Homo sapiens: one gene and its partners. The protein of the gene in region 4 interacts with the protein of the main gene of each other region in a biochemical or structural test. Each region holds a gene or a part of one and is shown on either strand. Other genes may lie near its edges.

What was found.
Region 1: the proteins of NAA10 (region 4) and HIF1A form a complex in vitro, tested with the Homo sapiens proteins (4 studies listed by BioGRID and IntAct, with this or other methods).
Region 2: of the proteins of NAA10 (region 4) and SNAP25, one has a biochemical effect on the other in vitro, tested with the Homo sapiens proteins (one study listed by BioGRID).
Region 3: the proteins of NAA10 (region 4) and PGK1 form a complex in vitro, tested with the Homo sapiens proteins (one study listed by BioGRID).

Annotation. Positions count from the first base shown.
Region 1 is NC_000014.9:61,740,389-61,747,770, forward strand, and holds part of HIF1A (hypoxia-inducible factor 1-alpha), read left to right. Parts: intron 1-116; coding exon 117-239; intron 240-366; coding exon 367-800; intron 801-4,316; coding exon 4,317-4,425; intron 4,426-5,302; coding exon 5,303-5,429; intron 5,430-6,545; coding exon 6,546-6,697; 3' UTR 6,698-7,382.
Region 2 is NC_000020.11:10,298,617-10,305,998, forward strand, and holds part of SNAP25 (synaptosomal-associated protein 25), read left to right. Parts: intron 1-651; coding exon 652-796; intron 797-7,382.
Region 3 is NC_000023.11:78,098,977-78,107,346, forward strand, and holds the start of PGK1 (phosphoglycerate kinase 1), read left to right. Parts: upstream 1-5,271; 5' UTR 5,272-5,364; coding exon 5,365-5,429; intron 5,430-8,370. UniProt on the Homo sapiens protein: Catalyzes one of the two ATP producing reactions in the glycolytic pathway via the reversible conversion of 1,3-diphosphoglycerate to 3-phosphoglycerate.
Region 4 is NC_000023.11:153,932,038-153,938,910, reverse strand, and holds the start of NAA10 (N-alpha-acetyltransferase 10), read left to right. Parts: upstream 1-3,873; 5' UTR 3,874-4,006; coding exon 4,007-4,027; intron 4,028-4,435; coding exon 4,436-4,534; intron 4,535-4,909; coding exon 4,910-4,968; intron 4,969-6,326; coding exon 6,327-6,372; intron 6,373-6,479; coding exon 6,480-6,595; intron 6,596-6,795; coding exon 6,796-6,840; intron 6,841-6,873. Other genes in the region: RENBP (N-acylglucosamine 2-epimerase), read left to right, coding at 3,335-3,422, 3,507-3,625. UniProt on the Homo sapiens protein: Catalytic subunit of N-terminal acetyltransferase complexes which display alpha (N-terminal) acetyltransferase activity. Acetylates amino termini that are devoid of initiator methionine.

The DNA of each region.
Region 1 (7,382 bases), on a different chromosome or scaffold from region 4:
CGATGGACTTGGTTGTGTGTTTTCTGGTTTTTCTGAGATCTAGTTTGAAAATTCTGACAACTAGCAAAGTATATGGAAGCTTCTTCAGGAAATAGTAAACATATTTCTTTTTACAGCCTAATAGTCCCAGTGAATATTGTTTTTATGTGGATAGTGATATGGTCAATGAATTCAAGTTGGAATTGGTAGAAAAACTTTTTGCTGAAGACACAGAAGCAAAGAACCCATTTTCTACTCAGGTATATGAACTTATTTGTTTTATATTAAATTTCATTAATTTTTAGTCTGAAGTGACTTTGAGTTTCACTTGTTTTTTATTTATAAGGTGTGGCCATTGTAAAAACTCATGTATTTGCTGTTTTAAAGGACACAGATTTAGACTTGGAGATGTTAGCTCCCTATATCCCAATGGATGATGACTTCCAGTTACGTTCCTTCGATCAGTTGTCACCATTAGAAAGCAGTTCCGCAAGCCCTGAAAGCGCAAGTCCTCAAAGCACAGTTACAGTATTCCAGCAGACTCAAATACAAGAACCTACTGCTAATGCCACCACTACCACTGCCACCACTGATGAATTAAAAACAGTGACAAAAGACCGTATGGAAGACATTAAAATATTGATTGCATCTCCATCTCCTACCCACATACATAAAGAAACTACTAGTGCCACATCATCACCATATAGAGATACTCAAAGTCGGACAGCCTCACCAAACAGAGCAGGAAAAGGAGTCATAGAACAGACAGAAAAATCTCATCCAAGAAGCCCTAACGTGTTATCTGTCGCTTTGAGTCAAAGGTATTTATATGTAACATTCAAGTTATAGTTCTTTTATTATTTTTGAGATAAATGTATGTGATAGTACATGATTTTTAAACTTATAGCAAACTTTCTGATATATATGCCCTAACGCAAATTCTTGAGAACTCAAAAAACTTTCTAAATTAACCTCATATATTTTTTCTTTTTCTTTCTTTTTTTTTTTTTTGAGACAGAGTCTCGCTTTGTCGCCCAGGCTGGAGTGCAATGGCATGGCACCATCTCAGCTCACGGCAACCTCTGCCTCCTGGGTGCAAGAGATTCTCCTGCCTCAGCCTCCCGAGTAGCTGGGATTACAGGCATGCACCACCACGCCCGGCTGATTTTTTTGGTATTTTTCATAGAGACAGGGTTTCTCCACGTTGGTCAGGCTGGTCTCAAACTCCCGACTTCAGGTGATCCGCCTGCCTCAGCCTCCGAAAGAGCTGGGATTACAGGTGTGAGCCACCATGCCCGCTCCTATTTTTTCTAAAATAATTATAAATTCTAAAATTACCTATCTAAATGGAGGAGGGTCTTCTGACACCTTTAAAATAAAATCCAGCTCAGTACTGTAAATGTGTTTACAGAACTTGTTTAAAGTTCTTACAGTTGTTTAAATCAGACTAGTTAACTACCCTCACTACTTAGATGCTTCCATTTCTTAGAGCTCTTTTTTAAGCTTATCTGAAGAAAAGCCCTTCCAATTTAAGGGTTATTTCCAATTGCACATTCCAAATTGAGCCTTCCATCTTCAGCATTCAATATAGATATTTACAGGCCCCTCTTTTAAAATTTTATTATAGTTAACTTGTATTAAAGTTGCTTTTATTTTTCATTACGTATTTGTAGAACATTAGCTATATATATATTGCAGGCTACATAGGTTTTCAAACTGTACAACAGGAATCTAAGCATGAATTGTTACTTCTATGGAGCTAGTTCAAACAAACATATGGACATGACCCAATTTTTAAGTTATACTTTCTGTATATAATTTGTAAGGGGATTTCACATATTTTAAGTTTGAGGCTATAGCTAGAAGAAATTAAGTTTTATCTAATAAGTGTGTGGAAAAGGGAAATGATTCCTTCTCTACTATGTCTAGACTAAGCCAGATATCAATAGCAATAGGAAAGAACCACTGTCGTAGCCAGAACACATAGCTTTTTTCCCTGCCTAACATTCCCACCTTGACCTAGAGTGCTGGGAGAGGTCTTTTCCCTAAGCTTGGAAAAGACATTGGGGCTTTAGATGAACTCAGAAGTACTTTACATTACTTTATTTACTGTGTCACTTACTCACTTTTGACTCTGAGCTCCACGAGGGCAATCACAGTGTCTTGGGCATTTTAGTGATACTAATACTTAGCTCATGACCTAATGTGTAGTACTTCCTCAATAAATGGTTGTTGAGGCAGGGCGCAGTGGCTCATCACTGTAATCTCAGCACTTTGGGAGGCTGAAGCGGGTGGATCACCTGAGGCCAAGAGTTTCAGACCAGCCTGGCCAACATGGTGAAACCCGGTCTACTAAAAATGCAAAAATTAGCTGGGCGTGGTGGCACGTGCCTGTAATCCCAGCTACTTTGGGAGGTTGAGGCAGGAGAATTGCTTGAACCCTGGAGGTGGAGGCTGCAGTGAGCCGAGATCGTGCCATTGCACTCCAGCCTGGGCGAGAAGAGTGAAACTCGGTTTCAAAAAAAAAAAAAAAAAAAAAAGTTGTTGGACTGACAGATGCATGAATACAGTAGTAAAAATGACAATCACTTATAAGTTACAGTTTACTATCAGCTACAGAGGATGGGATATCCAGTTTTCTGAACAACTGTTCTCTTGTACTTGTCAAAGCCAAAGTGTAACAACACATCAAGTCACTTTAGCAATTTATTTTTGAGACGGAGTTTTGCTCTTGTTGCCCAGGCTGGAGTGCAATGGCGTGATCTCGGATCTTGGCTCACCGCAACTGCCGCCTCGCTGGTTCAAGCAAATCTCGTGCCTCAGCCTCCCGAGTAGCTGGGATTACAGGCATGCACCACCACACCCAGCTAATTTTGTATTTTTAGTAGAGACAGTGTTTCTCCAGGTTGATCAGGCTGGTCTCAAACTCCCGACCTCAGGTGATCCACCTGCCTCAGCCTCCCAAAGTGCTGGGATGACAGTTGTGAGCCACTGTGCCCAGCTAGCAACTGTTTTTAAACATTAGTTCCAATGTAGTGTACACTGAAAACTTTTATGAAAGGAATTTCAAAAATTAAGATAAACCATTAAAAACGTAATTACTAAGTACTACTACTACTACAATGATATTTACATAATAGACTGAGTTACATTTCATAAAGACAATATATCTGTATAAGAATTTTTAAACTTCCCTGTCTATATAATAGAAGTTTTAGAGAAATTTTTTAAAAACCAAAGAAAACTGCAAAATAAGATCACTTACCTATTTGGCATTCTCAACTGTCTGGAACAGCAAGGAGCCATTATGATTATGCATTTGGTTTGTGGGGTGTCTTGAAAAGTCAAAATAATGTAACAAAGCTGATGTACTTTACTCATTAGAACAATTCTTCACAATTTAATATTAATTTTAGATATACATAGTTCATGTTTGATAACCAGATCAATACTGAGTGAAAAATAGCATAGTGGGAAGAGCAGGGGAGGGGAGGTAGGGATCTGGAGACCTAGAGTGTACTTCCATATTGCAACTAGTGAGCAGTAGGACTTTGAGAAAGTTACCCAATAGGCCTCAGGGTTCTAATTTATAAAATGGGTATGATATGCCTGCCTTATCTGTCTTGGGAACTTAAGTAAGGTTAAAATGAACTAATGAACTTGAAATGTTTTATAAACTGAAAATGCTATACGAATGTGAGATTGATCTTGTATTTCAATAGTCCCAACAATATCACTGCATTGTTATATTAGGTGGAATAAAAGGACAATATTTAACTGTTTTGACTCTACAATAGTGTCAATTTAGTTGTGTTCAGCTCTATTTTATAAAATAGGGATACGCATACTGTAGAAAATTTCCTGTTAAATTAAGCTTTGACGGCCAGGTGCTCACGCCTGTAATCCCAGCACTTTGGGAGGCCAAGGTGGGCAGATCACTTGCGCTCAGGAGTTTGAGACCAGCCTGAGCAACATAGTGAAATCCTGTCTCTACAAAAATATGTATATATAAATTAGTCATAATCCCAGCTACTTGAGAGGCTGAGGTGGGAGGATCACTTGATTCCAGAGGCAGGGCTTGGTTGCAGTAAGCAGAGATCACGTCTCTGCACTCCAGCCTGGCTGACAGAGTAAGACCGTGTTTCACCAAAAAAAAAAAAAAAAAATTAAGCTTTTACTTTTAAGATGATAAACTTTAGTGATCAGGAAAGTTATCTTATGTATATTATATTCCTTAATATTGGAGAACTAAAGAATTATGTATTTTCTTTAAAAGCGCTCACTGGATATTTTTTTTAAAAACGCTATATTTTCATTTAGAATTTTTTTCTTTTCAGAACTACAGTTCCTGAGGAAGAACTAAATCCAAAGATACTAGCTTTGCAGAATGCTCAGAGAAAGCGAAAAATGGAACATGATGGTTCACTTTTTCAAGCAGTAGGAATTGTAAGTATGAGTAGTAGGTTTTGCTTTTCTAGCTAATGTGCTATTTCGTGTGTGTGTGTGTGTGTGTGTGTGTGTGTGTGTTTCCACGTTTCTTCCAAATAGTAAAGTTATATTTTCAGAAGTTATACATTGGGTTTTTTTACTCTGTATGCACTGGTTTTTAAAAATACAAATGTTTAATACATACATTCTTGGTATAAAAATTCCAAACAATTCCAGTGTATTTTGAGTTAAAAAGTGAAGTTCTCCCCTTACTCCACCCTGAATATCACCACCAATCTCATTCTCTTCCCTTTAAGTTACTTTGCCTTATTAAAAGAACTGCTATTGGCCAGGCACAGTGCCTCACGCCTGTAATCCCAGCACTTTGGGAGGCCAAGATGAGGATCACTTGAGGTCAGGAGTTCGAGACCAGCCTGGCCAACTTGGTGAAACCCTGTCTCTACTAAAAATACAAAAATTAGCCAGGCGTGTTGGTGCACAACTATAATCCCAGCCACTCTGGAGGCTGAGGCAGGAGAATAGCTTGAACCCGGGAGGTGGAGGTTGCGATGAGCTGAGATCAGGCCACTGCACTCCAGCCTGGGTAAGAGAGTGAGAGTCCATCTCATATTTAAAAAAGAACTGCTATGTTTTGGGGTAAGTCAATGGTGGTATAATACATTCTGATATTTTCAAACTAAATTAACTGGAAAGTATTTATAGACAGAATGGTCATAATGGATGACAAATAACTTAAGAAAGAATTCAAAATAATTTAGGGTAGTATTTAAGAAACTGCCTATAATGTTATTAAATTTACACCAATTTCAAGGTTTTTGGTTGTTTAAAAAAAAAATTCAACAAACTAAACTTGAAATAACTTTACTGTTTATAGGGAACATTATTACAGCAGCCAGACGATCATGCAGCTACTACATCACTTTCTTGGAAACGTGTAAAAGGATGCAAATCTAGTGAACAGAATGGAATGGAGCAAAAGACAATTATTTTAATACCCTCTGGTTAGTTTATTCTTTTTGACCTTGAACATCACAAAGACAAAATACATGAAACATTTTTATTTAGGAGCTTTAATCTAAGTGAGAATGACTTTGGTTCCTTAGCAAGATTAAAAAGTAAAGTTGTGGCTGGGCGCGGTGGCTCACACCTGTAATCCCAGCACTTTGGGAGGCCGAGGCAGCCAGATCATCTGAGGTCAGGAGTTGGAGACCAGCCTGGCCACCATGGTGAAACCCCGTCTCTACTAAAAATACAAAAATTAGCTGGGCGTGGTGGCGGGCGCCTGTAATCCCAGCTACTTGGGAGGCTGAGGCATGAGAATTGCTTGAACCCGGAAGGCAGAGGTTGCAGTGAGCCAAGATGGCACCACTGCACTCCAGCCTGGGCGACAAGGGTGAGACTCTGCCTCAAAAAAAAAAAAAAAAAAAAGTACAGTTGTATTTCATGTGATGGTCTTAATACAGAGATTAACATTTCAAGGTGGAGCTTTTCATTTTTAGTAATTTTCTTTGATTTCTCTATGTCCATGTGCTGTCAATATTGATAGAAGCTGAAATTTGTGAACTTTTATGACTTCTTTTTTTTTTTTTTTTTTTTTTGAGACAGGGTCTCGCTCTGTTGCCCAGGCCTGGAGTGCAGTGGCATGATCATAGCTCACTGCAGTCTCAAACTCCTGTGCTCAAGCTCAAGCAATCATCCTACCTCAGCCTCCTGAGTAGCTCGCACTACAGACATGCCTCACCACACCCGGTTGCTTTTTGTAGAGATGGGGTCTCACTATGTTGCCTAGGCTGGTTTCAAACTCCTGGCCTCAAGTGATCCTCCTGCCTCAGCCTGTGCTAGGATTACAGGCATCAGCTTTGATGCCCACCATATTTATGCCTTTTTCCAAATTGTTATTTCTTTGTGCCTTTATTGTATCCTGTAAACATTTCTGACACAGCAACAGTATCACTGGATTATACTTACTTTTTAACATAGTTGTGGTTTTGCCAGGTAAACTAAAAACCCTTCCAGAATTTTGCTTTATTTTCTATGATACCTAACACATTGTGGGTGTTTAATAAATATTCATTGACTAGATGAATGTATACTTAGGTATCTCTTTTGTTTTTCAGATTTAGCATGTAGACTGCTGGGGCAATCAATGGATGAAAGTGGATTACCACAGCTGACCAGTTATGATTGTGAAGTTAATGCTCCTATACAAGGCAGCAGAAACCTACTGCAGGGTGAAGAATTACTCAGAGCTTTGGATCAAGTTAACTGAGCTTTTTCTTAATTTCATTCCTTTTTTTGGACACTGGTGGCTCATTACCTAAAGCAGTCTATTTATATTTTCTACATCTAATTTTAGAAGCCTGGCTACAATACTGCACAAACTTGGTTAGTTCAATTTTGATCCCCTTTCTACTTAATTTACATTAATGCTCTTTTTTAGTATGTTCTTTAATGCTGGATCACAGACAGCTCATTTTCTCAGTTTTTTGGTATTTAAACCATTGCATTGCAGTAGCATCATTTTAAAAAATGCACCTTTTTATTTATTTATTTTTGGCTAGGGAGTTTATCCCTTTTTCGAATTATTTTTAAGAAGATGCCAATATAATTTTTGTAAGAAGGCAGTAACCTTTCATCATGATCATAGGCAGTTGAAAAATTTTTACACCTTTTTTTTCACATTTTACATAAATAATAATGCTTTGCCAGCAGTACGTGGTAGCCACAATTGCACAATATATTTTCTTAAAAAATACCAGCAGTTACTCATGGAATATATTCTGCGTTTATAAAACTAGTTTTTAAGAAGAAATTTTTTTTGGCCTATGAAATTGTTAAACCTGGAACATGACATTGTTAATCATATAATAATGATTCTTAAATGCTGTATGGTTTATTATTTAAATGGGTAAAGCCATTTACATAATATAGAAAGATATGCATATATCTAGAAG
Region 2 (7,382 bases), on a different chromosome or scaffold from region 4:
CACCATGCCACTAAAAAACCCATGTTATTAACATATGAGTAAATAAAAATCATCTTGAACAAGTAGCTCTCCTTGGAGTTCCTGGGAGCAAGCAGGGTTAAGGGGCAAACTGTAATTATCATTACTCTTCCCATTGGTGTCAATCCCAAGTGTGAAAAGAGATGAGCACAGAGACTCTGACTTAGCACAATAAGCTTTTTATTGTATTCTTAATTTGAGTCTTAGAAATTTTGAGACTTAATTTGAGTCTTAGAAATATTAAGAATATTCTTAGAAAGAAGAATATCGTTTCTAATTCCATCTTCGTGCTCTGACCTAAAGTCCTTTCAAAGAAAATGTTTTCATCCTTAAACAATAAAAATTGAAATAAACATATGAAGGGGAAACAACATAATGGAAGGAGTGAGAAAGTAGATAAATTAATCTATTTAATATACCTTCTTTAAGAATAGAAATTCAAGGGTTCAAAAAGCAATTTTAAACATTTTTTTTAAATGTATGAAAGCTAAAATGTGTTTTTGTACTGGATGGAGATTAAAGATAGATAAAGTTGATGCCCAGAGGACGACAGATTTCCACTATGCTTTGGGTCCTTGGTATTCAATATGTTTTCCACCCTCTGTCTTCTAAAACTTGCTCTTTGGATCCCAGGGTAACAAATGATGCCCGAGAAAATGAAATGGATGAAAACCTAGAGCAGGTGAGCGGCATCATCGGGAACCTCCGTCACATGGCCCTGGATATGGGCAATGAGATCGATACACAGAATCGCCAGATCGACAGGATCATGGAGAAGGTGAGCACGTGGCAGTCAGCAAGTCCCTACTGCGAGTCACTTCTGAAATGACCAACAGGAAGTGTGAAGGGCATAACAAGATCCTCAAAACACGACCTTGGATTCAGGCGCACTGATAGCTGGAAATGTTCTTCATTTTCCAAGAGAAAAATATAGGACTCAGCAACAGAATTGGAGTGAAAATAAGAGGGTCAAATTTAATCCAGCAAATATTCTCAAAGGCTCCTGTCAGCCAGGCATTGTGCTAGGCACTGTGGGCCATGTACACATGAGAAAGACACCACCCCTACTGCCAAGAAATTCACGGCCTATGGGAGGCTACGAGCCTCCAGATGAATTTTCTATCACTCAAAATATAATTCACTAAGAGATCCACAGATAAAATGCTAAACAAGGTTAGATAAGGAAAGATCTCAAGAGGCAAAGTTCGGGAAAATCTCAGAATAAGTTGACTTTGAATTGAATCTTGAAGGATGGTTAGTATTAATAGTTTGTCAAGTGGAGGTGGTGAAGGGATAGAATCAGAAAATGGGAGAAAGAATAGTCAGTATAGCCAGGACATGATTATGAGCTTTGCTTTTATAAATGCCAAAGCTTTAATGAGAATTCAAAAATATCCAGGTTCCATTTCCAGTTTAACAGTTCACATCCCCAGTTCTAAAAACAGGGAATTTTATATGATGAAATTGAGTTTACACAAGGACACCAGACTTGGCTCTAAGATCCACCATGTCAACGTGGGCCATAAGAAAGACTGGAGGGAGTAGACTGGGAAGGGGTGGGTTTGGGGGCTTAAAATTAGAAGAGATTGGAAAGAAACACTGGAACGTTCCTATAAAGAGACCTAGGGCACCAAAACCTGATATTCTACAACACAGAACTCCGACATAATTTATATTTCCATGTTTCATGCCCTTTCCTCAATCAGTAGGGTCTTGAATATTGATTACAAACTCTTATGTCCAAATGCTAAAAAGGAGAAAAAGAGACATTATAGATTTAACGATAATTGTACATCTATAATCTACTCAATGTGGGTAACTTATGTTGTGTGTTTATTCCCTGGGAGACGTTGAAGTTCTTTGTCTGATATCCTAAATTTTCTTATAATAATTCATTCCATTTTGGTGAGCAGAGAAGGATACTTTTAAGATTTTTAGAATCATAAATCTAAATAGTAGTTTCTTGGTATGCAAGCAACCTCCAATGACTTGAAAAAGGAGTAAGTAGGCATAAAGGGAACACTTTGTCCTGTTGTGTTGTACATACTCCATGTTAAAAATATCTGATTGCATATTTTGCCTGATCAGTATGAAAACTACGCAAACTTTAGTGTTGGTTGGCAAAATACTTGTGCTTTGCTTACTTTTGCAAGTAATGGCATGCTTATCGTTGTTAAGAAGGCTTTCATATGATAAAGCTTTTAAAGCTGTGTAAATCAATAGATATTAGAATAATAATGAGAGTTTCAAAACTCACTAGAGCCAACACAAGCTGACCTAACCCATTACGGCCCAGAATAATGAACTAAAAAATCATTGCTGAGCTGCCCTCCAACAGAAAAAACAATTTGAAAAAAACAGGAAGTATTCATTTTCTATTAATGGACCCACTTTACTTGCAGATGCAGCTAGATAATGCATCAAAGCCAATTAGGGTTCCAGAAGGAGCGTCTTTACTAATAGAAGGGTCAAACTCTTATTGACAGAGTTGAACTTTAAGCAAGAAAATGTGTTCCTGGAAAGGCAAGTGGCATCTTGATTCTGCCACTTTGAATTTCTAGTTCTCATCTTTAGGGAGAAGGTTTTTCTTCTACGCCCAGTGTACTATAAAGACAGAGACATATGCAGCTACAAGGTTTAATCAGAAGCCAGGCAGGTGGATGGATAATGACTATTTCAATTTGTATCATTCCTTGAGTGCAGAATCATTTAAGTGGGAGAAGGGTCTAATTGCCTTTGAATAACTAGTTTCCAGTCAGCACTTTAAATAGCCCCTTTTTTTTCCAGAATCAAAATCCACACATGATTTAAATAGAGCCCACTTCAACCCAGCATTGCCCCAAATGATCATGTCGCATGAACTGCACAATTATTAATAGATTTCCACCTTCTCATTGAAGTTCTCATTTCTGATAACGGGACAGTATGTGGAAGTTTCCTGCATATCTAAGATGTAATTGCAATCACACTGTAGGGGTAAGGAGAGTCTTATGATGTTTCTCTCATAATCTCTCATGACCCCAACAGCAACCTTTACCCAGCTCTATCAATCATGATCTTTTCTCATCACTTGGATCAATAGTGAAGTTTTGGGAGTCCTTAACAATGAGATTTTCAATACATCCTCATGGATTGTCAAGAAATTACTTTATTTAAAAATCTCGTTTTCTGCTTAAGGGTATTTATGTATATAAATAATAACCTTATATATATAAATAAATAACTATATATATTATATAATATATAATATATATATTATATGTATATGGTTATTATATATATATAAAAACCATATATAAAAATAACCATATATAGATATACCTTCTAAGGTTAAAAACATAATTTTTTCAGAAAACTTACTGAATTGGAAGCAAGCCTATATCAGAGGGTTTATGGGAACTGTTGCTAAGGAAATACCTTAGCAATGTTCAAACTTTGATTTAAAGTTATCAGTGGTAAGTTAGGCATGCAGTCCCAGCTACTCCAGAGGCTGAGGCAGGAGAATTCCTTGAGCCCAGGAGTTCCAGGCTGCAGTGAGCTATGATCGTGCCACTGCACTCGCACTCCAGCCTGGGCAACAGAGCAAGATCCCATCTCTAATAAGTAAATATATAAATAAAAATAAAGTTGTCAGTGGTAGATGACAGGCACACGTTGGAATACAGTGAGGCTGATTCTTTAGCAGTCCTCACATTCTTCTATCAGTGAGAAAACACAGCATTTGAGAGCTAAGACTTTGAGTTCTAACAGGGTTTTGCCATTCACCAGCTCTGTGACCTGATTGCCTCACCTGAAGGATAGTAAGAGAACTGTTCAAACCTAGGATCAGAACAGGCTGGAAGTATGAACTGGGTTCTAAAAGTCACCTGGCATGGTCTGAAGTTGAAGAGATTCCCGGAGCGTTCAGAAGATGGGCTGAACAGCTCCTTCTAAACTTTTACTGGCTCTTTGGTGGTCATCCTGGCCTTCTCACAAGGACAAACATGTAACATATGTTGGGCACTCCAGCAAATTTAGAATTTTCTAAATAGAAATATAAAAATTGGAATGGGACAGCCATCATAAATAAAGTCCTACAGCATATAAGTAGGGTGATCATAGGGGCATTCTCCAAATACCAGGAAGACATCTACAAGGAGATTCCAGACTTTTTTTTTTTTTTAAAAGAAGCTAATTCTTTTATATAATAAAGGGGCAGTACTTTCTGTGTCAAATATTGCATGGGGTGGAATTTTCATATGCTTCAGAAGTAAGTTAGGTGGAAATCACAGATGCTCATTGAACATAAGTCTGTTTCAGCTCCTCCCAGATCCTTTAAGGATATACAGAGTAACCTCATGCTCTACTTCAAATATCCCCAGGTGAAGGCCCCTCAGTGCATTCTTGTACAGGAGATCCTAGAATGTTTGCGCTCAGGAATGCCATCATTTTAAAATGAATTATTTTTCTCATTTGAGCTTTTCAGAGCATTTAGTCTGGCAACATAATAATTCAATCTACAGGAACATTTCACATTGCTCTGATCCTGTAACTTTCCTTTGCACTGAAGTGTCATTATTTCTGATACCATTTGTAGCTGGAAAGGGAGGGCTTAAGAACCAAGTAAAATTGGTGAGATTATCCATTTTCCAATTGAGAAACCTGAGGTCAAAAATGTGAGTCTGTAGTTCAAAACAATCAAAATCAATGCCCTATCTTACTATGTAAATACTGATTTTAAAAGACAAGTGTCAATTATCCAAACAGATGACAGAGAACCATTGCCAGGTATTCAAAGTTATGATTAATCTGGAAATATGTTTGTTTTAACTTTGCAAATTTCTATTTGAACATGGATAATTCTAATGTCCTGAGAATTCACGATATGAACTGAATACAGAAGACTCAGCTCAATAAAAATTGGGAAGTACAGCACCACAATAGGTACAAAGCTGGTAATCATTGAGTGATACTGGTTGAGAGAAAAACAGTTTGGTTTCCCCACACTGCCTGGCAGCCTCCTCCTCTTCTTCCCAGGCTGTAGAAGGATAGACAGCATTACCAGTCAGGGAAGGACAAAAGAAAAGCCTCCATAGAATCGTTGTCTTCACCTCTGGTTGCTGATGCATTTTTCTCAGTGGTGATGGGAATCATTCATTTTCTGGAATTTAAAGATTTATGCTGGTAGCAGCCCTAGGTTTCATGCTGCATATACAGCAAACATAACCCAAGCAGTAAAGAGATCAACCAAGAGATTAAAGCCAGCCAGTTACAAAATCATAGTAAATGTGCATCTGTTAAAGAAAAGACAGTTATTAAACTCATAGAAATGAATCTTCAGAAATGCAACTTAAAAACTATTAAGCATCCCAGAAGCAAGCCAAGTTCTCATACGGTAACAATAATTGCAAGATAAACTAATGAGCCCTTCGTTTTGCAAAACATTATTCCAAGCACATTATGTGTATAAACTCATTTGATCTCAGCAAATTGAATAGTAAGTGATGAATAGTGTGGACTCTGACTCCAGGTTGCTAGCATTCAGACTCTGGTTTCTCCATTTATTAGTACTAAGACTTCAGACAAATTCCCCAGATCGTTTCTGACTGCTTTTCTCATTTGGAAAAGTGAGCTAATAATAGTACACACTTTATAGTTGATATTGTTAATCTTGATGTTGTCAAAGTTTAATGAGTGGAACAAAGTACAGTTGACCCTTGAACAACATGGAGATTTAGGGTGTCAACCCCCATGCAGCTGAAAATTTTTTGACTCCCCCAAAATTTAACTACTAGTAGCCTACTGTTGACTGGAAGCCTTAATGACATAAAAAGTCCATTAACATCTATGTTTTATGTATTATTTACTGTATTCGTATGATAAAGTAAGCTGGAGAAAAGAAAATGTTATTAAGAAAATCATAAGGAAGATAAAATACATTTATAATACTATGCTGTATTTATTGATACCATCAGTTTATATCATTTGTTTACAAGATGAATCATCAGTCTGAAATCTTCAGTACACATTAAGCAATTCAACTTTTTCTTGAAATGTCGTGACTTTTTTTTGCTTTTTGGGAGCACTGCTAGCATCACTGGTGGCACTTTGTATGGGTGCATGATGTTATTCAAGGTTTACAGTATTGCACTAAACATGATTTTTTTTAAATGTGAAACTGCAAGAGATCACTTTTTACTGCACTATGCAATTTACTGGAGAGATGGTGAGGATGATTAGTATCACAGAGCATTTTAAACGGATGCTCACAACACTTGAGTTCACCACAATAATAGGAGGTGGCTATGAAATTATTAGAGTAGTACAGTATGGACTACAGTTAATTTTATACAATTATGATTTAATACTTCACCTTTACATTTCTCTCAACTGCAAATAGGCCCATGTATGGTCTATATTTGTTTAAGTCTCATCAATTTTAACTTTTCATAGTAGATTTATATGTATTTTATGATAGTAAATAATAGACTAGACTAGTATCTACATATATTTTATCCATTCATGACATGCCTAATTTTTTCTAAATTTTCTCAATATTTCTAAGTAACACATTCATCTGCAAGTTTGTCTTAATTGTTGCAAATCTCCAAAGCATTTTCCAGTGTATTTATTGAAAAAAAATCCTGGCCAGGTACAATGGCACATGCCTGTAATCTCAGCATTTTGGGAGGCTGAGGAGGGAGGACTGCTTGAGCCCAGGAGTTTGAGACCAGCCTGGGCAACATAGTGAGATCTCATCTATACAAAAAATAGAAAAATTAGCCAGGCATGGTGGCATGCACCTGTGGTCTTAGCTATTTAGGAGGCTGAGATGGGAGGCTCAGTTGAGCCCAGGCAGTCAAGGGTGCAATGAGCTATGATCACACCGCTGTTCCCCAGCCTGGGCATCAGAGCAAGACCCTGTCTCAAAAAAAAGGAAGAAAGAAATTCACACAAAAGTGGATCCACACCATTCAAACCCATGATGTCCAAGGGTCCACTGTACATGCTCATGCTCATTAGCAATATTTTTTATCATCCAGGTTGGAGAAGAGAAAGCTGAGCCCCCAAGATGTAATTTGTTCAAAGGGACACTGCTAATAAATTAGCCATGGTTTCAATCCTACAGTATAAGAAGTGTAATTCAACTTGGTCCAACAGATGTGAATGCCTACCACAGAAGTCATTGAGTGTCTTTCTAGGATAGAAAGATAAATCATATATAAGCCTACGCTCTCTGGTAGGGAAAATTATTAAAAATGAAAATTAAAAAAGCAATGATTCTGAAAAAATATATTCGTTCATTAAAAAAAAAAAATGAAAATTAAGCTTCTACGGTCACATTCAAATAGAGCCATAGCCGTCATTCTGGGAAGACAAAAGAA
Region 3 (8,370 bases), about 76 Mb from region 4:
CAAATATATATATATATATATTTGTAGAGACAGGAGACAGGGTTTCTCTCTGCCACCCAAACCAGAGTGTAGTGGCGCCATCACAGCTTACTGCAGCCTTGATATGGAATGAGCTCCCTCATTCTTAAGCTTCATATAGTACAGTATTCTATTGTATTCATGTACCATAGTTTAACTAGTCCTTTATTGACAGACACTTGGGATTTTTCCTGTCCTTTGCTATGACAAATGAGAAAATGTACATACAGAAATACATAAAGTCCAGAGATCTATCCTTACATTAGATTCACAGAAATGGAACTGCTGGCTCAAAGGGTAAATCTATTAGATCTTTGTGTCACTCAGAGTTTGCCTGCCATATGTGTGAAGAAGAGATCAAACTTTATCTTTTCTATATAGCTATGCAGTTGTCTCAAGACCATTGATTTAAAATAAAAGTCCATTATTACCCCACTGATTTGACTCGGTACTAATTTTCTACATGCATTTGGTTCTATTTATAGACTTTCTATTCTGTCCCATTGGTCTTTCTACTCATGTTCCAGTGACTCAATGTGTGCTTTTTTCATTTTGCAAGGTTAGCTCACCATAGTTTTATTAGGGAGGGGACTGGTACTGTAACAAAGATTGTACACAAGTAGTTTAAACAAGATAGAAGTTGATTTCTCTGTCATGTTAACAGTATAGAGGTGAGTGGTCCAGGGCTGGTGAGGAAGCACTACCATCACTGAGGCCAAGGTGGCTGCCCCAGCTTCTGCCATCTCCCAGTCAGCAGAAGGCAGAAAAGGGCCTAAAGACAGCATGAACTTTCCTTTTTAGGGTCACTATGTGGAAATGGCTTATATCAGTTGCCCAGAACTTGCTCACATGGTCACTCCAAGCCACAAGGAAGATGGAGAAATGTAGTCTCTTGTTGGAGAGCCATGTGTTTGATTAAAATTTAGGAGTTCTATTAGTAAAGAAAGGGAAAATGGTCTCTGTTACAATGGTGACCTGATGGTAAAGACCCCAATGTAGAAGGTATTGGGGCATTGTAACGTAAATAATGGCATAAACTTTCCTCCAGGAATTCACAATAGAGGATTGGTGCAGAGGAGTCTAGGATTCATATAGGCTCTACCTCTTACCTTCATATTTGTGGGATTCTCTTTGATTAGAATTGTATTTACTATTTTTAGAGCTCTTGCATGCTCTTTCTCTTTTTCTGTATATGTTGCTGTATGTGTGCGTTTTTTTTTCTTTTCTCACTGCTTTACTCACATGTCCCTGGAGGTATCAATCTATTTCTGAGGCAACTATTGGGGCTTGTTAATGAATTAATTGGCAAAAAGAAGCCTCTCAGGGAACAAAAGCCCGACCCCGTTTATACCTCTGAACTTCCTATCTCCCTTCCTTTGATATCTCCCTTGAATGTGATAAAGAATAGACAATTTAAGTGGGTCTTTTATATTTACAGAAGACTACACTTATATATAAAAGGGGATCTGGGTAATAGATAACTAAACTAAAGGATAGGAAAAAGCCACAAAAAGAAAGATCCTATAGCCTTAGAGAGACCATATGATTTATCACCTAAACTGGGATACTTTAAAGAGTTTAAGGAGGCTGGGCGTGGTGGCTCATGCCTGTAGTCCTAGCTACTTGGGAGACTGAGGCAGGAGGATCCCTTGAACCCCAGAGGTTGAGCCTGATTGCAGTGAGCTGATTGCTGGACTGCACTCCAGCCTGGGAGACAGAGCGAGGTCCTGTCTTTAGAACAAGCAAACAAACAACCCTCCCCGCTCCCTCCAAAAAAAATAACCACAAGCAGATTTTTTTGGGGCATACACATATTTTGATCAGTTTCTTAGCTATATCTGTCTCTAATACCATGTTACTGGTATTTTTCTGAAAAATGTATTTTTTTTCAATATGGTCTTATTAAGTTTTTTCATAAAATTGCCTGCAATCTGTCTCCCAGTTGCATTTTATGGTTAACAAATTTAACATTACAGATATCTTCAACTGATTTTTCTCCATAGATCATGTCGACCTAAAAGGAAGAAGTGTAGGCAAAATATGGAAAGGTCATTTGGGCCATGGTTGAGAACTGCAGCCTGGGACACACTTCCAGGTTGCCTTGAAGAGTACTCTGGAGAACAATGGGGAGGTTCAAATTTTTTAAGAAAAAAGGATGAATCAGGAGTGGGGGTGATTGCAAAGTTGTTTGTCAAGAATTCTCATTGGTTTAAAGAAATAACATTGGGCTGGGTGTGGTGGCTCACACCTGTAATCCTAGCAATTTGGGAGGCCGAATCGGGCGGATCATTTGAGGTCAGGAGTTCGAGACCAGCCTGGCCAACAGGGTGAAACTACGTCTCTACTAAAAATACAAAAATTAGCTGGGCGTGGTGGCATGCACCTGTAATCCCAGCTACTCAGGAGTCTGAGGCATGAGAACTGCTTGAACCCGGGAGGCGGAGGTTGCAGTGAGCCGAGATTGTGTCCCTGCACTCCAGCCTGGGCAACAGAGTGAGACTCCGTCTCAAAAAAAAAAAAAAAAAAAAAAAGCCAACAAGGGTGTCTCTCTAGAGCAAACTAGAAAGATGGAATCTCCTATATACATCATAATCTAATCATGGGAGTTATATCTCATCACTTCTGCCACATTCTATTGGTTAGAAGCCAGTCATAGTTCCAGCTCACATTCAAGGGGAGGAAATTATAGAAAGATGTGAACACTAGAGGGCAGAGATCATGGGCACCATCTTAGAATTGGGAAATGGCTCTGAGATTGAGATTTGTGTGCAGGTGGATCACTGGGGGTTGCTTCTGGGAACAAGTCCTGTAAAGGAGTAAGGAAATCAGATTTGGATAGAAAAGGGAGAAGTCTCAATAGAGGCTTCAGCCAACCCCACAGACAGTTCTGAAGCAGAGCTGGTCCTTTAGAGACGTCCTGAAATGAAGCAAAGAAGCCAGGCCTTTGGAACGGCATTAAGCAATCACTAATGGATGCCCCTGGGAAGTCGGTATAACCTTAGGCAAGGCAGCTTCCTTCAACAGAGGGCAGTTTCTGGGGAGAAACTCAGCTGTGAGCTGTCAGCAACTAATACTCCCAGCAGCTAATAATAAGTGCCTCAGTTCTGAAAGAGGGAATCTGAGTGATATATCATCATCACACTTGGTTAACTAGAATATCTCCTCAGTCAGTATATATATTTTCCCAGCACTGTGAATAAAAGTCAGTTGAATGAGAAATTGAAAGTACCTCTGATTGGTCCCTTCCTGCAACCAATCAGGCTGGTGGCAGGCCAAGTTTTCATTTGTATAGGAGTGTAACTTTGTAACTTCACTTCAGCCTCTGATTGGTCACTTTCTGCAACCAATCAGACTGACCATGGACCACTACTTCATTTGCATGGGGTATACACCAAGTGGCTAATGGGAAACCTCTACCGGGTATTTAGACCCCAGAAAATTCTGTAACCAAGCTCTTGAGCTGCTTGCTCAGGCCTGCTCTCACCTTGTGGAGTATACTTTTGAAACCGCCTTTGCAAAAATCATAACTGAGGAAATTATGACAGTGAAAGAGATCAGACCTAACCTACCCTATCTTCCTTCTAACTTCTAAAATGTCTTTGTTCATTCCTGGGTATAGGCCAAACTAGCCTTGGGAAAGAATTTATAGTGTAAACTCTGAGACAAAATTGATAACAGCCCTTTCCCCTTCTTGCTGGGACCAGTCTGCCTTTCTTTGTAGGTGTAACAAATTAGCTACAAGATTATAAATTACAGTTTAGGGGCCATGCAGCCTCTGGCTGCAAGAATCTGAACCTCCCCAAATTGCTTCTGGGAATAACATCACCATTGCAAATCCTAAGATCAGTGCTTGAGATATTTTGCAGACCCTGCATTCTCATGCAGCAGAGGACACCACCCAGACTGATAATCTGGCTCAACTAGCTCCACGATCCCACCCAGGAAGAACTCGCAAGAACTCACTTCGACCCCGTGATTTAATCTTCATCCCGACCAACTAGCACTCCCCACTTTCCGAACCCATACCTGCCAAATTATCCTTAAAAACTCTGATTCCAGAATGCTCAGGGAGACTGATTTGAGTGATAATGAAACTCTGGTCTCCCGCACAGCGCTCAGCGTGAATTATTCTTTCGCCATTGCAATTCCCGTCTTCATAAATCAGCTCTGTCTAGGCAGCGGACAAGGTGAACCCATTGGGCGGTTACACTTTCGTTTTCAATACATCTCTGCTTTTATTGCTTCATTCTTTCTTTGCTTTGTGCATTTCGTCCAGTTCTTAGTTCAAGACGCTAAGAACTTGGACACCCTCCACGGGTAACAGGACTACAGGTGCCCGCCACCACGTCTAGCTAATTTTTTGTATTTTTAGTAGAGATGGGGTTTTGCTATGTTGCTCAGGCTGGTCTCGAACCACTGGGCTCAAGCAATCTGCCGGCCTTGGCCTCCCAAAGTGCCGGGATTAAAGGCGTGAGCCACCGCGCCTGGCCCACTAAACTTCTCTGTGCATCAGTTATTTCATTTGCCTAATGAGGATAACAGTAGTCACTACTGCGTTTTGTGAGCGTTGGTTAATATATGAAAAATGCCACGTGTTTGCCATTAGCATCAATCATGCCATAACCAGAAAAATTACATTGCATTTTTTATTTTAAAAAAGGTGGGGGCCAGAGTGGACCTGGGCCTCTTCCAACTTCTGAGAGGTCTCTATTACTAAGTAAGCCTTAAGAAGCAGAATTCCATGAAGGGAGCTAGGAAACCAGGATTTTCCAAAAGGAGGTGGCATTTGCATTGATCCTGGTAGGGCAGCCTCGAATTCCACGGGGTTGGGGTTGCGCCTTTTCCAAGGCAGCCCTGGGTTTGCGCAGGGACGCGGCTGCTCTGGGCGTGGTTCCGGGAAACGCAGCGGCGCCGACCCTGGGTCTCGCACATTCTTCACGTCCGTTCGCAGCGTCACCCGGATCTTCGCCGCTACCCTTGTGGGCCCCCCGGCGACGCTTCCTGCTCCGCCCCTAAGTCGGGAAGGTTCCTTGCGGTTCGCGGCGTGCCGGACGTGACAAACGGAAGCCGCACGTCTCACTAGTACCCTCGCAGACGGACAGCGCCAGGGAGCAATGGCAGCGCGCCGACCGCGATGGGCTGTGGCCAATAGCGGCTGCTCAGCAGGGCGCGCCGAGAGCAGCGGCCGGGAAGGGGCGGTGCGGGAGGCGGGGTGTGGGGCGGTAGTGTGGGCCCTGTTCCTGCCCGCGCGGTGTTCCGCATTCTGCAAGCCTCCGGAGCGCACGTCGGCAGTCGGCTCCCTCGTTGACCGAATCACCGACCTCTCTCCCCAGCTGTATTTCCAAAATGTCGCTTTCTAACAAGCTGACGCTGGACAAGCTGGACGTTAAAGGGAAGCGGGTCGTTATGAGGTAATTCTGCACGTTTGCCCGCGTGCTCTCTGTGCTCTGTCGCAAACCTCTTTGGCCGGAGCCGACTTGTTCTCTCGTCTGCTCTAAGTTCTTTTAGCTTTTGGCTGGGCCCCAGGGGTCCTAGGCTTGGAGGGCGAGGCTGCTCACGGGTTTGGTGGTTTCTAGCCGCATTTTCCCCAGCCCAGAAAGCACCCGAAGTCACCCTTCGGGGATGGATCCCACTGAGGAAGGGCTGAGATTGCCGCTGGGACCCATTTTGTCCTTTTTCCTATTGGTGAAATGCAGTTCCGTTGCCTCCAGCTCCCAGTCGGCGAGATGGGACTTAATGCTTATCCTGCAAATCTCTAGGCTTCAAGGAAGGGACCTTGAAAGGTCATTTTACTTTCCCTTCCCCCACGCTCCTAGACCGTCGCAGCCAAATGAGAAACGGCCCACATCTCACAGGTTCCTGCACAAAAGGATATTTTTCCAAGAGGATGTTGATTTAACTTCAGGAGTAGACCCCCCCGCCCCCCGCCACTAAAGAATTGGGGTGGGAGGGTAGGGCGGGGCGAACTGGAGGAGGCCCTGCAGAGCTTACGTAACAGGCGTCTGCTGCCCTGCAGCGCGGTATCGTTGGACTCTTGGGCACAGGATTTGCATCAGGATTGTGACATACTAGGTAATGGTAGAGCAGGGTGTGGCTGCTCATACTTGCTGGCCTCCAATCTCATCCCCACGTGTGGCTAGAAAAGTAGAATTTTAAAATTGGGGGAAGTTTCCTCGTGCACTTTGGGTCTCTTACTCTGCGCATGTGGATCTCTAGTCACTTGCCAACACGGTTTCTCTCTTATCTGCCAGAATTGTTGGTAGAGTGGGCAGCTTTTACATTTATCCTTTTTGTCACGTGTGATATATTTGTGCATACCAGGAGCAAGGTGCAGGAGGATGAGTCGGTATGTAACTGATGGACTTGACTGTTCATATACCTTAACAGGATCCAAGAGTGGTGTTTTTGAGGGGTCATAAAGGTTTCTGTTGATAGCATTTTGCAACCTTGACCTTTTTGGGAAGTGGTTGATTGATGGGTAGGTATTTATTTGGCTGGTGTAATCTAGCCCCTTTTCCAATTTGGGCTGGTTCAAATGAGGGCTTGTGTTGGATATTAACAGACACGTAAGTCAGTAGGAGATCTCCCTTTACTCTAACTTTAAACATATGAGGACACGTTTGAGTTAGGGAACTGTATGGGTACCCTAAAAGGACATGTAGCTCTCCTCTTCTCTCTAATTTCACTTTGGTCAATATTTTTGCAGGTAACCGCTGCCCTGCTGTGGAGATAGAAGAACCCAATAATTTATGTCCATGAAAAATACCTGGTTTCCACATTTCCCCAAATGACATAGGCCTTTGTAATCTGGACAAAGTAGGAGTCACAGCCATGTTAGTACTAGAGGAGTGCCCTTTCTGGCCCTCATACAATCCTAAAAAAAGGGGATAGACCCTGTAAAAAACAGGACAGGTGGACATTGGCATGCAACTAGCTTTTAGGTTTTAATTAGTTCCTTGCATCTCCCCTGTGTTCGACGCTGATTCTTCCAGATGCATGGACCAACTAACAGACAAGGAGTGGGACATTATGCTGATAACCTTCCTGTAATTGCAGTCTTGGGCTTTATTTCCTCTCTCTCTAGGGAAACTGGCTTGAGGAAGCTAGCTGGGGGCGGGATTGGAGGAGCTGCTTAACTTTTCTCCCTCTGGACCTAATAAAGTTTCATTTAGCACACGCTAACCCAAAGCCTTGAAATGATTGGCTAGTCCTGTTTTGCTGATGGAAAATGACCTGTTCAGGGTTACTGAACTACCAAGTTGGTGGCAGAGCTAGGAGTAGAATTTAGGTCTCCTTGGCTATCAACTAGATCCTCTGAATATTCGAGACAATGACCAAGGATACGTTGAAATAGAACTTTCTCCCGTAACCTGGATACCTTCTACTTATTTAGGCTGAGGACAGGAAGTTACATGGTTCCCTGATTATTAATGTATTTCTTTTGAACAGAGAGTCACATTGTAGGCCTACTTTTTTGGAGGTGCTTAGGCAGCCATGTGGTGTCAGCTCAATTCCTTTTTGTTTCAACGTGGTGGTTGCTGGCGGTGTTTCCGGAATGGGGCTTCCTGAGTAGTGGCTGCCTCATTTGTCGTCTTTGTCCTGCAGAAGTGAACTATGGTATTTGCTGACTCTTCTGGTCCACTGGTTTGGATTGCCAAGGGAAATTGATTTGTTGAGGTAACATGGGATAGCCAGAAACCTCTGACTTGTTAATTACCAGGTTCCATCTTAGTTTTTTAGGACTCCGCAGTTGACTTTACAGCCTCTTTGAATACACTTCTGCTTATTTTTGTGGTAATTTCCTTTCTTTCTCTCATAGGTTGCCAGTCATCCTTTGCCTGCTTGTAAAGCACTTCCTTTTTGCTTGCTCCTGCCTTTTTTTTTAAACCTTACTGGTTTTCTCCAACTTGTAACTTGTAAAGAAACTGCTTTGATGTAGTGGGAAGAGAAACAGGAAAAAATTGAGAGCAGAGAAAAAGTCACTAAGACACCCACAATATCCCAGTTTTCCATCTGGGGCAGTGAAGCATTGATGGACATGGTTCCTTTGAGAGTTTTTAATGGAACTGGACCTGGGACCTGAGATTTCAGGTGATAGAGACTTGATATTCTTATTCCAGCTAAATCAGTATATTTTTTAATGTTTTATTTTGAAATAAAGATTCATGGGAGGTTACAAAGTTAGAGAGGTCTTGTGTTCAACCCATTTTCCCCCAATGGATGCATCTTACCTAATTATAGAACAATATCAAAAGTAGGAAATTGACATTGGTATAAAGTGTGTATGGTTCTATGCCATTTTATTACGTGCGTAGATTTGTGTAACCGCCACCACAATCAAGATACAGAACT
Region 4 (6,873 bases):
GAGGCAGGAGAATCGCTTGAACCCAGGAGGCAGAGGTTGCAGTGAGCCGAGATCGCACCATTGCACTCCAGCCTGGGGGACAAGAGCAAGACTTGGTCTCAAAAAAAAAAAAAACAAAAAAAAAAAAACAGTACAGATGCTGCTGAGATCTATGAGGCAAAAAGGGAAATGGGGGCCCAGCAAAGGAGACAAGAATCAGTGGTGACGCAGGAAGAAAACCAAGCCAGGGGCTCCCTGAAGCCCAAGTGCTAGGAGCAGAGTGATAAGCTGTCTTGACTGCTGCCCAGGAGGCAACTCGAGCTGCTGAACACAGGAAAGGGCATGGCACCCAGTGGAAAGGGCATGGCACCCAGTGGAAAGGGCATGGCACCCAGTGGTGGCAAGGCCTGGGTGGTGAATGAATGAAGATTCATCATGCGTTTCTAAAGCCACGACTCCGACTCCACTGGTGAACCCTGGTACTGCGAGGACTATAGCAGGGGATCTTATTCTGGGGTCTGTGAGCTTCGAAACCGGGGGCGGAGAATCACATCTTTATTTGTACTAACCTCTAACTGAAACTAGCATTTGCTGCCATTATGAGTGGAGGCAATGAACCACATTGGTAATAGAAGTGCCTGGCTTTGTCACCGATAGAAATCCAGATGTGTTTACATTGCATTGCAGTTAGAGAGACATCTGCAAGTATCACATATATTCGTCACTACTTCCAAAGCAGCAGGGTTGTTAGACCTGCAGCTATATCTTAATATTTAATGCATTCATAGAGTGTGTGTTAGGGGCCACCAGTTCTAACTCAAAAATGAAATTGAAGGAATACATTTTAATAAGATATAGATGACATTAAACAATTACAAAAGTTATAATCAACAGGTAAATCGGCTGGGCATGGTGGCTCATGCCTGTAATCTCAGCACTTTGGGAGACTGAGGCGGGTGGATCACCTGAGGTCAGGAGTTCTGGACCAGCCTGGTCAACATGGCGAAACCCCGTCTCTACTAAAAATACAAAAATTGGGCTGGTCGCGGTGGCTCACGCCTGCCATTCCAGCACTTTGAAAGGCCGAGGCAGGTGGATCACTTGAGGTCAGGAGTTCGAGAACAGCCTGGCTGACATGGTGAAACCCCCATCTCTATTAAAAATACAAAAAATTAGCCGGGTGTGGTGGCGGGTGCCTGTAATCCCAACTACTGGGGAGACTGAGGCAGGAGAATCACTTGAACCCGGGAAGCACTCCAGCCTGGGCAACAGGAGCAAAACTCCATTAAAAAAAATAAAAAATAAAAAAAATAAATAAATAAATTAGCCGGGCTTGGTGGCGGGTGCCTGTAATCCCAGCTACTCAGGAGGCTGAAGCAGGAGAATCACTGGAACCTGGGAGGTGAAGGTTGCAGTGAGCTGGGATCACGCCACTGCACTCCATCCAGTCTGGGTGACAAGAGCGAAACTCCGTCTTAAAAAAACAAAAACCAAAAAACTAACCAACAAACAAAAAAACAGGTAAGTCATTATGCATCAACCAACATAACAGAATACAGAAGGCAAAAATCCAGACATTGAAGGAAATTCTTCTTTACCTTCCTGTGTCATGTCAAGCAGTCAAAAAATAAGTAAGGACTTGAACAATGTAACTCAAAAGACAGAATGAATACACACAGAACTAGTTTTTATTTATTTATTTATTTATTTATTTATTTATTTATTTATTTATTTTTGAGACAGGGTCTCTATCGCCCAGGCTGAGTGCAGTGGCACAATCATGGCTCAGTGCAGCCTCAACCTCCTGGGCTCAAGCGATCCTTCCACCTCAGCCACCCAGGTAGCTGGGACTACAGCTGTGTGCCATCACGCCCAGCTAATTCTTTAATTTTTTTTTTGTATAGATGGGGTCTCACTATGTTTCCCAGCCTGGTCTTAAACTCCTGGCCTCAAGTGATCCTCCCGCCTCGGCCTCTCAAAGTGCTGGGATTATAGGCGTGAGCCACTGTGCCCAGCCCAGGACTAGTTTTACTTCCTACAAAGAAGAATACACCAACTCTTATGGGCCACCATTTAAAGAGACATTTTCATAGTGGACTTCAATGTAATTGAGTCCATGATCCTTTTGAGAAGGGGCTGAACTGACAAGCCTCCCTGAGACAGGTGCCCCATGGAATGCTAGTGGAGAGAGAAGGAAAGAGAGTGGAATGGGCACTGGGCAGGGGCAGAGGGAGGAGGAGATGAGTTTGGGACCAATGGTGAGCCAGGACAGGAGTCAGATGAGATTGTGCATCTACTGGAAGACAGGCCTGTGAAGCCGGGAATGGGAGCTCCAAGGGAGTCACTTCTTAAGAGTTTCATGACAGGTCGTCGCCTCCATCAGGGTTCTTTGTTTCTTTTCTTTTCCTTTTTTTTTTTTTTTTTTTGAGACGGAGTCTGGCTCTGTTGCCCAGGCTGGAGTGCAGTGGCGCGATCTTGGCTCACTGCAAGCTCCGCCTCCCGGGTTCACGCCATTCTCCTGCCTCAGCCTCCCGAGTAGCTGGGACTACAGGTGCCCGCCACCACTCCCGGCTAATTTTTTGTATTTTAGTAGAGACGGGATTTCACTGTGTTAGCCAGGATGGTCTCGATCTCCTGACCTTGTGATCCGCCCGCCTCGGCCTCCCAAAGTGCTGGGATTACAGGTGTGAGCCTTTGCACCCGGCCGGGTTCTTTGTTTCTTTGAATCAACGTAACCACGACTACAATCACAATAGAGAACTTTTTTGTTTGTTTGTTTGTTCGTTTGTTTGTTTGTTTGAGATGGAGTCTCGCTCTGTCACCCAGGCTGGAGCGCAATGGCGTGATCTCAGCTCACTGCAACCTCCGCCTCCTGTGTTCAAGCTATTCTCCCGCCTCAGCCTCCCGAGTATACTGCTGGGATTACAAGTGCGTGCCACCACGTCCGGCTAATTTTGTATTTTTAGTAGAGATGAGGTTTCACCATGTTGTCCAGGCTGATCTTGAACTCCTGACCTCAGGTGATCCGCCCGCCTCGGCCTCCGAAAGTGCTGGGATTACAGGCGCAAGCCACAGCTCCCGGCCCGATAGACAACGTTTCTACACCCCAGGGCAGAGTTCTTTCATTCCATCTAGCAGTGTCTCATCCCCTTGCCCAGTCGGTTATATAGTTGTAGCCTGCCTGCTGCGCCCACCCCTGCTTTCATCTTTGTGGAGGACGCAGTGTCGCGGTTAAGATCGCTGGTTCTGGAGCCACGTCACCTGGGGTCAACCCAGGCTCTGACCCCTGGTAGCGATGCAGTGGCATCTGGGCGGGTCCTGCAGGCGCTAGCTGTCACTGTCTCTGTTATTCCAGTTTCGCGATCCCGAGTACGGGGAATGGTTTGGCTACCTGAGCCGAGAGGGCAAGGTGGCCCTCTCCATCAAGGGAGGTCCTTTCAAAGGTGAGTGGGGGAGAGGGCGGGGCCGCAGGGGTTGCGCCTCTCGGCTGCCCCCGGCCCTCACTACCTGCCCGCCTCTACCCGCAGGCTGCTTCCACGTGCCGCGGTGCCTAGCCATGTGCGAGGAGATGCTGGGCGCCCTGCTGAGCCGCCCCGCCCCCGCCCCCTCCCCCGCCCCCACCCCCGCCTGCCGAGGCGCGGAATAAAGGCTGAGTCCGCTCCACCTGCGGCTGTGCGCGCGTCTGTGGGCTCGCGGGAGGGGGGCTGTCGCGCCGAGGGAGGGGCCGGCTCCAGCTCCGGGGCAGCGCCCGCCCCGCCCCCAGGCCCGCCCCGCGCTGACCGGCTCCGCGCATTGGCCCGCCCCGTGCGCTGGCCTGTCCCGCGCATTGGCCAAGCGGCCGGGAGGACGGGCCCGGCGGCCGTGCACTTCCGGCCGGTGGCCGGCCCGGCGCGCACCGCCCCTTCCGCCGTCGCCCAGCGAGCCCAGCTCCGGTCCCAGCCCCGGCCGTCCCGGCGTCGCTTCGGAGCGCGGCGGCAGCTGACTGCGCCTTCACGATCCGCTGGGACCCGCGAGCCCCGCCGCCGTTATGAACATCCGCAATGCGAGGGTGAGCGCCCGGGGCGGGAGGCTGTCCGCGCCGCGTGGGCGCCGGGCCGGGTGGCTGCCGCGCATGCTCCCGAGGGCCCCGGCCGAGCCCGGCCCGGTGGCCCTGAGTGTGCCTGCGGCCGCTGGACCTATGGGGCTGGCCCAGCCCGCCGAAGAGGCCGGGGCGCGGGGCCGGGGCTGCGATTCCCTCCTGTTTGCGTGATGTCGGGCCTCCGTTGGGTGGGCTCCGGGGACCTCCGGGGCGCCCACTCCTGTTCCTGTGCTCCGGGCGTTGTGCAAAGTCAGATCGTCACAGTGCCTGCCCAGCCCCGAGGGAGCGGGGCCGAGCAGACCGACGGGGAGCAGGCTTCTCACCCGTGGTCACCGCCGCCTTAGACTGAGCGCGTTCCACTGCCCTCCTTCCCTGCAGCCAGAGGACCTAATGAACATGCAGCACTGCAACCTCCTCTGCCTGCCCGAGAACTACCAGATGAAATACTACTTCTACCATGGCCTTTCCTGGCCCCAGGTGGGCAGCTTCTGAATTTGGGCATGGGGGAAAGCAGGCCGAGGAAAATCCCATCTGGCCATCTTGGAGGGAGTGGACAAGTCTGTCAGAGCCCAGGGGGCTGTATGGTCGGTGGCGTCCTGGGTGTTTTCAGCTGGCAGACAGGGGCAAAGGAAAAGAAGGCGCCCGAAGGGAGCAGAGAATAGGGGCAGGATCCCCACTTTGCGTCTTCTTTCTGGGTATGGGCAGGGCACAGTGTGGCGAGGGGGAGACCAAGCCACTCAGCCCGGAGGTCATGAGCCATCACACAACTCGCCACTCGTCCAGTTTGTGTCCCTCTAAAGGGCTCTTCTAGCTCCGACAAGAAGTTTTCTCACTCTGTTTTCCTGTCACCAGCTCTCTTACATTGCTGAGGACGAGAATGGGAAGATTGTGGGGTATGTCCTGGCCAAAATGTGAGTCACCAAGGAGGAAGACAGAAGCTACACGTGTCTGGTGGATGCCTCTGTGGGCTTTAAAAAAAATGAATAGGCTTCTTCTTTTCAGTACAGTTGAAAGTTTATAGAAAAATTGAACAGAAAGGACATGGAGTTCTTATAGCACCCCTCAGCATCCCCTCCCTGCCAGCTTCCTCTGTTAGTAGCATGTTGGATTTGTGTGGTCCACTTGTGACAAGTGATAAATGAATGTGATATGTTACTATTATTATTATTACTATTATTATTTGAGACGGAGTCTTGCCCTGTCGCCCAGGCTGGAGTGCAGTCGCGTGATCTTGGCTCACTGCAACCTCCACCCCCTGGGTTCAAGCGATTCTCCTGCCTCAGCCTCCTTAGTAGCTGGGATTACAGGCACATGCCACCACACCTGGCTAATTTTTGTATATTTCAGTAGCAATGGGGTTTCACTACGTTGGCCAGGCTGGTCTCGAATTCCTGACCTCAGGTGTTTCCACCCACCTCTGTCTCCCAAAGTGCTAGGATTACAGGCGTGAGCCACTGCGCCTGGCCGATATATTATTATTAACTAAACCCATAGTTTACATTACTGCACTTCTCTTTGTGTTGTAAGCCCCATGGTTTTGACCAAATGACATGTGTCCACCTTCATATTATCGCAGGATAGTTTCACTGTGTTCCACGCATTCATCCCTCCCTCTCCTTAACCCGTGGCAACCACTGATTTTTTACTGTTTGCATGGTTTTGCCTTTTCCAGGATGTCACAGAGTTGGAATCATACTATATACAGCTTTTTCAGGCTGGCTTTTTTTCACTTAGTAATACACATTTAAGCTTCTGCCTTGTCTTTGCGTGGGTTGACAGCTCATTTCTTTTTTTATTTTTTGAGACAGGGTCTCGCTCTGTTGCCCAGGCTGGAGTGCAGTGGCATGATCATGGCTCACTGCAGCCTCAACCTCCCAGGCTCAAGTGATCCTCTCATGTCTGCCTCCCAAGTAGCTGGGACCACAGGCATGCGCCACCACATCCAGCTAATTTTTTGATTTTTTTTTTGTAGAGACAAAAAAAAGTGTTGTCCAGGCTGGTCTCGAACTCCTGGGCTCAAGCAGTCCTCTTGCCCCGGCCTGCCAAGTAGCTGGAACTATAGGCGTGTGCCCCACACCCGGCAGGCTTGGGGTTTTCAGGCAGCAGAGGGTGGCAGGATCGGCTGCTCTGATCCAAGAGGCTCCCGGCTCTCCCCCAGCTGGGGTCTTAGGGGGCTGTAGTGCATGTCCACTCTACAAATGGCAGGGGGGCTGGAGGTGGCTGTGCCTACACTGAGCTCCTTTGCAGCCTCTCCTTTCTCCCTCTCCAGGGAAGAGGACCCAGATGATGTGCCCCATGGACATATCACCTCATTGGTATGTAAGGTCCACCCAGGCTCTCTGGTGGGGGTGGAAGTGGGGGTTAGTTGGGGCAGCCCTCAAGGTCCCAGTCCCTCACCCCATCTCTGCTCTTCTCCCACCAGGCTGTGAAGCGTTCCCACCGGCGCCTCGGTCTGGCTCAGAAACTGATGGACCAGGCCTCTCGAGCCATGATAGAGAACTTCAATGCCAAATATGTCTCCCTGCATGTCAGGAAGAGGTGGAAGCCGGGCTGAGGGAAGGGGGATTGAGGGGGAGAGATACTGCCTTGACGGGGGTCCTGGGGTACCTCAGCTTTTGGTGAAGATCCAGGAAGTGGGATTGGGGGGAAGGAGGGACCAGGAGGAGGGGCAAGACCTGGACGTGCTACCCCTCCCTGGCCAAATCCGTGCAGCTCAGCAGTGCCTTGTTCCCCTGCAGTAACCGGGCCGCCCTGCACCTCTATTCCAACACCCTCAACTTTCAGTAAGTAGATCTCGATTTTTCTAATGGGCTGGG